3 linked regions of the Homo sapiens genome follow. The protein of the gene in region 1 binds, or shares a complex with, the protein of each later gene. Each region holds a gene or a part of one and is shown in the gene's direction. Other genes may lie near its edges.

Evidence for each region.
Region 2: TMEM216 (region 1) and CC2D2A share a complex: the UniProt entries of both Homo sapiens proteins name them as parts of the tectonic-like complex.
Region 3: TMEM216 (region 1) and TMEM67 share a complex: the UniProt entries of both Homo sapiens proteins name them as parts of the tectonic-like complex.

Annotation. Positions count from the first base shown.
Region 1 is NC_000011.10:61,390,344-61,394,095, forward strand, and holds the start of TMEM216 (transmembrane protein 216), read left to right. Parts: upstream 1-2,243; 5' UTR 2,244-2,288; coding exon 2,289-2,322; exon of another isoform or gene 2,323-2,336; intron 2,337-2,887; coding exon 2,888-2,989; intron 2,990-3,540; coding exon 3,541-3,633; intron 3,634-3,752. UniProt on the Homo sapiens protein: Part of the tectonic-like complex which is required for tissue-specific ciliogenesis and may regulate ciliary membrane composition.
Region 2 is NC_000004.12:15,535,851-15,539,602, forward strand, and holds part of CC2D2A (coiled-coil and C2 domain-containing protein 2A), read left to right. Parts: intron 1-1,069; coding exon 1,070-1,226; intron 1,227-2,048; coding exon 2,049-2,287; intron 2,288-3,752. UniProt on the Homo sapiens protein: Component of the tectonic-like complex, a complex localized at the transition zone of primary cilia and acting as a barrier that prevents diffusion of transmembrane proteins between the cilia and plasma membranes.
Region 3 is NC_000008.11:93,757,829-93,761,580, forward strand, and holds part of TMEM67 (meckelin isoform 1 precursor), read left to right. Parts: intron 1-654; coding exon 655-748; intron 749-2,031; coding exon of another isoform or gene 2,032-2,165; intron 2,166-3,752. UniProt on the Homo sapiens protein: Required for ciliary structure and function. Part of the tectonic-like complex which is required for tissue-specific ciliogenesis and may regulate ciliary membrane composition.

The DNA of each region.
Region 1 (3,752 bases):
CATGTGGTCTCTGTTGCAACTACTTAACATTGCCATAATAGCATGAAAGCTGCAATATATAATAACATGTAAGTAAGTGACCATGATGACGTTCTCCAAAGAACTTTTATTTACAAAAACAAGCAGCTGGCCCACTTTCTTTGTTTTTCTTTTGAGACATAGTTTCACTCTTGTTGCCCAGGCTGGAGTGCAATGGCTTGGTCTCAGCTCACTGCAACCTCCGCCTCCCAGGTTCAAGCGATTCTTATGCCTCAGCCCCCCAAGTAGCTGGGATTAGAGGCATGTGCCATCATGCCCGGCTAATTTTGTATTTTTAGTAGAGATGGGGTTTCACCATGTTGGTCAGGCTGGTCTTGAATTCCTGACCTCAAGTGATCCACCCGCCTCAGCCTCCCAAAGTGCTGGGATTACAGGTGTGAGCCACCGCGCCAGGTGCAGCTGGCCCACTTTCTTTCCATATCAGGCTCAGAGCAGGAACTTTTCTAATGTCTCTTGTCTTGCAGGCAGCGAAGATGGGGAAGCAGGATCTGGATTCCTTTCCACCTTAACCTCTGTGCTCTGCGCTTTCCTACTTACCCTAAAGGGCTTCCTTGCCCTCCAGCTTGCAGTTAAGTTGTGTCAGCGGGAGACATAAGCAGAGATCAGAGATGGGAGAAGGGAAATGGAGGTCCCTGCTATATTTATCCACTAGCCTCCTAGAGTGTGAGGGTTCCTAGTGGGAGGCCTTCTATGCACATATTACTCTCCAGCTTCAGGGAATTGTTTCAGGCCCTTCCCTTTTAAGCCTAGAAGTAACAATTACCGCCCCACCACATCCCAATTAGCCAGGGGTACAGCACTTTGCTTAAAGCTTAGTCACTCTTGGCCGGGGGCATTAATCACACCTGTAATCCCAGCACTTTGGGAGGCGGGGGGGGGGGGGGGGGGGGGGGGGGGGGGCGGGTCACCTGAGGTCAGGAGTTCCAGACCAGCCTGGCCAACATGGTGAAACCCCGTCTCTACTAAAAATGCAAAAATATTTAGCCGGGTGTGGTGGGGGGCACCTGTAATCCCCGCTACTTGGGAGGCTGAGACTGGAGAATCGCTTGAACCCAGGAGGCGGAGGTTGCAGTGACCAGAGATAGCGCCATTGCACTCCAGCCTGGGTTACAAGAGCAAAACTCCGTCTCAAAAATAAAATGAAATAAATAAAATAAAGCTTAGTCACCTTCCTCAGGCTACCTGGTTGGAGCGTGCCATCTGTTTCCTGCTTTACCCTGATTGACAACGGGCTAACAGCCAAGTCAAGTCAACCTGAGTCCTCTCAAAACCCTTCTTTTTGCACTCCCCTGCCTGCAGCAACACAGTTTTCTGTTTTTTTTTTTTTTTGAGACAGAGTCTCACTGTCGCCCAGGCTGGAGTGCGGTGGCGCGATCTCAGCTCACTGCAACCTCCGCCTCCCGGGTTCGAGCGATTCTCCTACCTCAGCCTCCCAAGTAGCTGTAACTACTGGCGCGCGCCAGTACGCCCGGCTAATTTTTGTATTTTTAGTAGAGACGGGGTTTCGCCATGTTGGCCAGGCTGATTTCGAACTCCTGACCTCAGGTGATCCATCACCTCGGCCTCCCAAAGTGCTGGGATTACAGGCGTGAGCCACTAAGCCCGGCCAGCAACACGCTTTTACCGCTGCAAATCCGGATCAGGCAGGCTTTGAAGCCCAGCTCACAGGCCGTCTCTTGGAAACTAACTTAGATTTCCACCTGGGAGCACTTTGTCCTCTCAGCTCCCACTGCACCACTTTATGGATCGCGTGGTGACTCGTTTCATTTTATTTATGTGTGTTCCTGGAAAGGACGCTCTATTTCCTTCGTGTCTCTACCTGGTAGGTAAATCGGCCGCAGAAAAGACCAATGCTAACTCCACCCTGCATTTGCAGAGATCCGTCGCTCACACCTTTTCTTGTCTTCCGTTGAAAAAAGAGAATCGTGGGAGTAGGACCTATTTGCCAATCTCCTGGTAACACTATCACAACTGGCCACTTCCGCCCAACGCCCGGTAGTCTGAGAGCCTCCAAGGTCCTCCCCCGCACCCCTGAGGTCCTGCAGACGACGGCGTCGTGGGTGGTCACCGTTATCCCTTAGGTCTGGAGAGGGGACATCCGAGCGAGGGCCACTTGCGGCCAGGCCCGAGCTCGTCCAGCTCCGGGTGACCACAGAGTGCCGCGGGCGGGCAGAGGGGCCGGAAACCCAGGCCGCTTCGTCCCTGTTTCCGGCAGCGCCGCGCTGCTCCGGGAGCCGCTGTGGCAGCGTATGCTGCCACGGGGACTGAAGATGGCGCCGCGAGGTGAGATTCCGGAGGTGTGTGAGTCGCTGGTCCCTTTCCCTTCGGTCGCTCCCTCCCACCTCTGTCCCAGAGCTTGACCTAAACCCTCCATTCTCTAGCGTTAGGGACGTCGCGCCTCCCTGGTCCAAAGCCGGCTTCCGCGGTCCCGCCCACCCTGGGTGCCTGAAGGTCTCAAGGTGCACAGCTCAAATAAACGCAGATCCTTGGCTGGGCCACTTCTAGGCTGGCTCAGGTGCGAATCTGTTGGTCTCTGCGCCCCAACTTCCCCTCCCAAATAGTGACAGAGTGAGATCTTTGAGATGTCTGTCAGCTGCGAGTTACCTCTTGACTTTTATTCCTGAAGCCGAAGAGTCGAGTTTCACGGTGATTCCTAGGAAAGGAGGGAAGCCCCCTCCACTCCCACCCCCGTACCCTCGCCCCCTCATTATCAGCAACCAGAAGTGCCCCTGAGTGGCCGGTCCCATTAGTTGCAGCGTCTAGTTTCCCCAAAGTTAGACACCAACCCATACGAGCAGAGAGGGAGCTGCCTTCCGGCCCATCCCACTTCTCTGTGCTCCTTTTTCAGGTAAACGGTTGTCCTCCACCCCGCTGGAAATCCTGTTCTTTCTGAACGGGTGGTATAATGCTACCTATTTCCTGCTGGAACTTTTCATATTTCTGTATAAAGGTAAGGAAGGCTTGGGGCTTGACGACAGCATCCCTTCCCCACTTCAGCTCAGAGCCAATTCCTACCAAGAACCTTCTTATTTTCCGTTCTTTTCTGCCCCCTGCAGTTCTTTGTCGCTGCAAGGCAGGCCTCCTCATCAGATGGCTTCTTTGAGTATGATTCCATAGGCAGCCCCTCAGCAAGAATTTCTTGAGTTTGAGAAATGTGGGCTTCTCCATTCTGACTCTGCCCACATCACTGCTCTTTGCTGAGCTCCACTGTAAGCCCACTGGTGACCCTTAGAAACTATTCAGTGGCCTGTGTACCCATGTACATCCAATCATTTTGGAGAGTGGAGTCCCCAGAGACTTTTGGAGTTAGGAGTAAAACACCATAATAATGAGCCTGAGTCGCATTGTGAGTTTATGTATCCTGCTGCTGTAATAATGCCCACATCTCACTAACTAGTTCATGGAAAGCTGAGACTGATGTCCTCTTTTTTCCCAAGTGTGTGGCAGTTCTTGTGGGTGCTGTTATATGCTGTTTGCAAACTCTGGCTTTTGTATTGGCAGGTGTCCTGCTACCATATCCAACAGCTAACCTAGTACTGGATGTGGTGATGCTCCTCCTTTATCTTGGAATTGAAGTAATTCGCCTGTTTTTTGGTAAGTGTTGTCCAGAGAATATTTCCACTCCTTATGAGACAAGCTGGTATCTGTAACTTGATTAACAAGAAAAGTACATAACCTAGGTTGACTATCATAGACTGGATCTGTATATCCTA
Region 2 (3,752 bases), on another chromosome or scaffold:
AGTCAGTATTCGGCACCATCTCCAAAGTGCTGGGTGGGATGGATGAAGTCACCACACATTTGCCGCCATCTACCAGGAGAGCCATGCTGTTCATCAACATGTTAAGGGCTCTGAAAAGATGACCAGCAAGGAACCTTTCACACTTATTTAATCCAGTGTTAATATGGCCACAATATCTTTTCCTGGTGGTACATCTCACAGAACTAATGTCCTACAGAACACACTGTGGGAAACGGTGGTTTGAACTGGGCTGATCTCCTGGTGGAGTATAAGCAAAATCATCAAAGAAAAACCCAAATCCTCCATCCAAAGTCAAAAAAGTGGTTTCACCATCATTCTCAGCAAACTATCACAAGGACAGAAAACCAAACACCGCATGTTCTCACTCACAGGTGGGAATTGAACAATGAGAACACGTGGACACAGGGCGGGGAACATCACACACCAGGGCCTGTCGGGGGTGGGAGGGTTGGGGGAGGGATAGCATTAGGAGAAATACCTAATGTAGATGATGGGTTGATGCATGCAGTAAACCAACATGGCACATGTATACCTATGTATCAAACCTGCATGTTGTGCACATGTACCCTAGAACTTAAAGTATAATTTTAAAAAATTAAAATTAAAATTTTTTAAAAAGTGGTTTCAGGGACTCAGTAGCAACAAAATGAAGCAGTTCCTCAGAGACTTGAAGAAGTCATAAAATAACTAATGAAATTTCCACCACTATCAGCTGAGAACTTACAGGCCCCATGTCAGCACACCACACAGATCATTTAACACAGAGAGGCATGGCTGCTCAGTGTTCAGTGGGTTGGGCTCATATTCAGCCCTTCCACTCACCAGCTGTGTGTTCTTGGGAACTTACTTAACTTCTATGTGCCTCTGTCATCTCATGTATACGATGTGGATAATAATAGCATCTGCCTCACAGGATTGTGAGTTTACATGTGCGACATTTTTAGAAGAGGAACTGGCACATAGCAAGTCCAATATAAGTATTTGCTGTTATTATTGCTCTCTTACTTAATTTCCAGAAATAACCAAGGGACTACAAATTATTTTAAAGGGAAAAAGCTGACCAGAAAGCAGATGAAGAAGCATATGAAGCAGAAATTCAAGCTGAAATAAGTGAACTGTTAGAAGAGCACACGGAGGAGTACGCACAGAAGATGGAAGAATACAGAACGTCGTTACAACAGTGGAAGGCCTGGAGGAAAGTGCAAGTGTGTAAACAAACACTCAGCCTGGAATAGGGCTGGCCAGGAAGTGTCTGGGAGGGCAGCCTCCAGTACAGGAGTGGGGAAACCAGACTGGCAGACTAGGGTATCCTGTGGCTCCCTCTGTCTCTTCCCCGTCCCCTGGCTAAGGGATAAAAGGATGAATGAATTGACTGGCTAATGCATTTGCTTAAAAAGCCACCCAGCTGACTGATACCAGAGCCAGCTGTGTCCACAGAGAATGCTATGGTAGCACTCTGTGCCTATTTAAGTAATAATGTAGTAATCACTAATGCATGTGTCCAGCACTGTGCTGAGTATCTTACATGCATTATTCCATTAAATGTAGGGATTGATGCTTCTGAGTTTCCTTCAGAAAATTATATAACTTTATGCACATGACCCTACAAAACTGAGTCCAAGGGCAACAAATAATAGATCAGGTGGGCCTGCAATGCTCACTGTGCTTACATGCCTTATTTTAATATTTCAAGATGTGTACTTCGCCTTGAAAACCAAAATTAATGATCACATGAATACCTACCATTTTTTAAGCTCTTTCCAGGGACTAGGCTGTATGACAAATGCTTTTTAGGCATTTCAACAGTCTCATTTCAACAGCCCTGGGAGAAATTTCCTGGGCTCCATTCTGTAGATGAAAAAACTGAGGCACAGAGAGGTCAGGTGGCTTAGTGACCTGCCTGATTACACACTTCTGGTTGAAATGGGGCTGGGGTTTGTATCCAGGTCCATCTGGCTATGAAGACTGTGCTCTTAAATGAAATTCCAAAATTCCTGTTTGATATCATGTTGCCTCTAACTCAACAGAGGGCCAAGAAGAAGAAAAGGAAACAAGCAGCAGAAGAACATCCCGGTGATGAGATTGCAGAGCCGTATCCCGAGGAGGACCTTGTGAAGCCCAGCCCTCCAGAGCCCACTGATCGGGCAGTGATAGAGCAGGAGGTGAGGGAGAGAGCAGCCCAGAGCAGGAGGAGGCCTTGGGAGCCCACGCTGGTCCCGGAGCTAAGCCTGGCAGGAAGCGTAACACCCAATGACCAGTGCCCCAGGTGAGTGGATGCTCCGACCGTAAATGAGGCTGACATCTGATACACATGTTCACGTGGGCACATGCACACACACATGCACGACATGGGGAGTGTACACTTACTGACCTACACGAGCATCAGGAGTATCATTAACTCTAAATGAATATTAGGTTGAACCACATGAAATTGCTGACATTTGCCCACTTTAGGTGATTTCATATGATTCACCTACCTCATGCATCTGCACTGGCCACTCAGGAGCACACTGGAAAGCTCCCTGTAGGAGAAGCATCCCAGTTGCAAATCTCTGCCTGCTCTTCACAGTGGCTGTCTGTGTGGCTTTTGATTTGAGTCCCTTATCTGTAACCTCAATGAGTCCTTCAGTCCACTGGTAGCATGTCCCACCTTTCTGGCACAGGCACGGATGCCTTTCCTTGCCCCTTCCTTGATTTCAGCTGCTCCAGGGATCAGCTTTTCTCCTTGAAGACCCCCCAGAAAGTTGTGGGTGGTATTTAAGTCAGGCCATCTGAAGCACACCCTCCAGATATGATAAAAATACATGTCTAGTCATTCTCACTTGATGCCTAAGAGAAACATCATTTGATTTATATACATTTGTACATATAATAATTCATAAACATACATTTGTAAGTTCATCTTTTTAAAAATTATAACATAATAAAAATATTTTTATGTTTCCTATTTATTCTTTCCTTCACTGAATAGCCATGGTTCTCAAAGTATAGCCCCAGAATCAGCAGCATCAGCATCACTGAGGACTTGTTAGAAACATAAACTCAGGCCAGGCATGGTGGCTCATGCCTGTAACCTCAGCACTTTGGGAGGCTGAGGCAGGAGGATCGCTTGAGGCCAGGAGTTGGAGACCAGCCTGGGGAACAAAATGAGACCTCACCTCTATTGAATAAATAAATAAATACCCCAAACATTTTTAATACCTCACATTGAAATAAATATGTTTAAGAAAGATTAATAAAAACTAGCCAGATAATTAAAGTCAACCAACTAAACAGAAATTTAAAAAATAATTTTAAAAAAGAAAGAAATGCAAGCTCACAAGTTCTACCTGAGACTTACTGAACCTGAAACCCTGAGGTGGGGCCTAGAAAACTGTTCTCACAAGGTCTCCAAGTGATTCTGATGCATGTTATGGTATATCATCATTAATTAAAGGGAGTCCATTAAAATCATCGATACCACAAAATCCCAGGCTTAGTTCTCCAGTAAATAGAAGATCTATCATGAATACAGGGACTGTTGTACACTGGAATCTTCAATATCCCAACGTGAAAAATGAGAATTCAAATAAAGTCAGTCAGCCTCCGAGTTCATTAAAACGTGGGAGTTAATTAGGATGTCATTATAAGACTTCTCACAGTCTTGGTTTCAAACTTCTGCTAATGTTCTAATGATTGATTTATTCTAATGATTGATTTATTTTAAAATTATAGCTTTTTGTGCATTTTCA
Region 3 (3,752 bases), on another chromosome or scaffold:
CAGCTCACTGCAACCTCCACCTTTCTGGTTCAAGCCATTCTGGTGCCTCAGCCTCCCAAGTAGGATTATAGGCATACACCACCACGCCCAGCTAATTTTTGTATTTTTAGTAGAGACGAGGTTTCACCACATTGGCCAGGCTGGCCTCAAGCTTTGGCCTCAAGTGATCCACCCACCTTGGCCTCCCAAAGTGCTGGAATTACAGACGTGAGCCACTGTGCCTGGACTAAATTTTTTAGGTATTTGAATTTTTAAAAATTAGAATAGAGTTTTAGAACAGGTAAGATTAACCTATTAACTGACCGTTGATTCAATCTTTTTGTGTTGTGTTGTGTTTTATATTTGTAAATGGAAAAACGAAATGACAAATAATTATGAAAGAGGCATCCATTTGAATTAAAGATCCTGAAGAAGAGAGAACTATTATCCGGAGTTAATCCTTTAATAGTTTTCAGGACATAGTGATAATATAGAGCTTCATTTTGGAATATAAGCATGAATTATCTCTCCAGGGAATTTTTATGTGGCTCATATATGTATGATTTATTTGAATATTCACTGTAGTTACATACTCTTATGGCATTTTGAACTTACATGATTAGAAGAAGAAAGTTAATTAAAAAAGAGAAAAGCATTTTTTTTCTTTTAATTTAGAAAGGTGTTACAGAAGATGGCTGGAACTGCATTTCTTGCCCTAGTGACTTAACTGCCGAAGGAAAATGTCACTGTCCCATTGGCCATATTTTAGGTAAGAATTAGATTCCTTATAAAGAAGTAGTGATAAATCTTCATTCTTGTTTTTGTTTTTATTTGAAAAGGGCACTAATTTAAATAGTTAAGTGATTACTTAATATTTTTGCAGTGGCTCAAGCAATTCTCCTGCCTCAGCTTCCTGAGTAGCTGGGACTGCACACATAACACCACTGCAGCTGGCTAATTTTTAAATTTTTTGTAGAGACTGGGTCTCGTTATGTTGCTCAGCCTGGTCTTGAACTCCTGGCCTCGAGAGATCTTCCTGCCTCAGCCTCCTAAAGTGCTGGGATTATAGGCATCAGTCACTGTGTCCAGCCCTTAATAGTGTTTATAAAAATTATTTTTGTACAAATTAATGATACTTAAAACATCAGCAGGCATTGAGAAGAAAATACAAAGTTTTGTCTGAGTTTTTTAAAACTCTTAATATTGTAGGATTAGATGGTTATTTCCTTAACATAACATGACAAAATATGTCTCAACTCAAAAGCCAACTTGATACTTAATAGGGAAAAAGCGTAAGCATTCCTGTTAATGTCAGGACCTGGAAAAGGATGCAAACTATGCACTTAAGTAAGAGAAAAAAAATATTTATCATTGGAAAAGAAAAGGTAGGCCGTTGTTAATCCTAGCACTTTGGAAGGCTAAGGCAGGTGTATTGCTTGAGCTCAAGAGTTTGAGACCAGTCTGGGCAACATGGTGAAACCGCATCTCTACAAATAAAAAAAAAAATTATTTGGTTACGGTGGCATGCACCTGTAGTCCCAGCTACTCGAGAGGCAAAGGTGGGAAGATCGCTTGAGCCTGGAAGGTCAAGGCTACAGTGAGCTGAGATGGCGCCACTGCACTCCAGCCTGAGCGACAGGGTAAGACCCTGTCTCATGAAAAAAAAAAAAAAAAAAAGTAAAATATCATTGTTTACAGATGATTTGATTGTATGTTTAAAACACCCAACAGAATGACTAAAAATTATTATAAACAGTGATGGAAGAAAATACCTCATATACAGTAGCAACAAAAAAGAAAAAATAAGTAGGCATATCCTTTTTTTTAATTTTAATTTTTATTTTTGTTTTTTTTTTTTTGAGACAGAGTTTTCACTGTTGTTGCCCAGGCTAGAGTGCAATGGTGTGATCTTGGCTCACTGCAACCTCCCTCTCAGGTTCAAGCGATTCTCCTGCCTCAGCCTCCCGAGTAGTTGGGATTATAGGCATGTGCCACCACACCTGGCTAATTTTATATTTTTAGTGGCTAACAGGGTTTCTCCATGTTGGTCAGGCTGGTCTTGAACTTCCGACCTCAGGTGATCTGCCTGCCTCAGCCTCCCAAAGTGCTGGGATACAGGCTTGAGCCACCGCACCTGACCTTGGCATGTACTTTAGAAGGAATGTACAACATAATTGAAGAAATTTGTGAGTATTACTGAGGGATATGAAGGCAGGCTTTTAAGTGAAAATGCATTCTTTATTTTTGGATGGGAAGATTAAATATTAGAAAGATGCAACTCTTCTACCAGTCTGTATATTTTAAAGGACCCTAATAAATTCTATCAGGATATTATTTGTTTGTTTTGGGGTAATATACAAATAGAGTCTGAAGTTTAACAGGAAAGTTATATGAAAAGCTAAGAAAATTCTGGGAAGGGAAAGAAGGAACTACCCCATCAGATAATATGCATGTTATATAGCTACTATAATCACATATATGACAGGCTTATGGATACACAGACTGATTGATGGAACTTAAAACAGGCAATCAGAATAGATTCAATTCATATAGGAATTTGGTATGTGAAAAAAGTGGCATTTCATATAAGTGGGGATAAAACTGATTAATGATGCTGGGAAAACTGAGAAAACACCCAGGTTGGGTTTCTACCTTATTTCTGAGAAAATTAAACTCCAAATGAGTCAAATACTAAATATGAATATATGAAAGTTCTTAAAGAAAATGCAGGAAAAATTTGTATAGTTTTGGTTTAACAGGCCTAAGTATGACCAAAAATACTCAGTCACTTTGGAGGCCTAGGTGGGACGATTACTTGAGCCATGGAGTTCCTGACCAGCCTGGGCAATATAGAGAGACTCTGTGTCTACAAAAAAAAAAGAAAAAAAGAAAAACCACAGAAGAAAAAATTGGTAAATTTATAAAATGCCATAAAAATTATAATACCAAAAACCAAACTACAAACTAAAGAAAAATATTAATGCATACAATAGACAGAGGTCGAAGTTCTTCAATAAATGTAAAGCTCCTACAGATAAATAAAAGTAAGATGAATAACCCAATTTTTAAAATAGCCAAGAGTCATAAATAAAGTTCACATAGAAAAAAATATTTTAACGTGAGAAAAAAATGTTCAACTTTACTCAGAGTAAGAAAATGTACGTTAAAGCTAAAATGAGATTTTATTTTTAACCTACCAGATTTTATTATAAAATTTTTTCGACCGGGCACAGTGGCTCACGCTTGTAATCCAGCACTTTGGGAGGCCGAGGCAGGTGGATCACCTGAGTTCAGGAGTTCAAGACCAGCCTGACGAATGTAGTCGCTATTAAAAACTCAAAATTAGCCTGGCATGGTGGCACATGCCTGTAATCCCAGTTTCTTGGAGGCTGAGGCAGGAGAATTGCTTGAACCCAAGGAGGTGGAGGTTACAGTGAGCCAAGATCACGCCATTGCACTCCAGCCTGGGCAACAAGAGTGAAACTCCATCTCAAAATAAAAAAGAAACTTTTTCAACTTTGACAATGTATTTATAAGGATACAGGGAAATAGTTATTCGTGTATTAATGGGAAAAATTTTAAGTTGGTGCAACCTCTGTGGAAAGCAAATTTATGGTGTTTATCAAAATTAAAAATACAGATTATCTTTGCCTGGAAAGCTCTCATCTAGAAATTTCTCATTTGGATACACTTAACTGTATGCCTGAAGAAGTGTTGAATGTTTTTTTCTTGCAACATTATTCCTAAGACAAAAGATTATAAACAAAATAAGA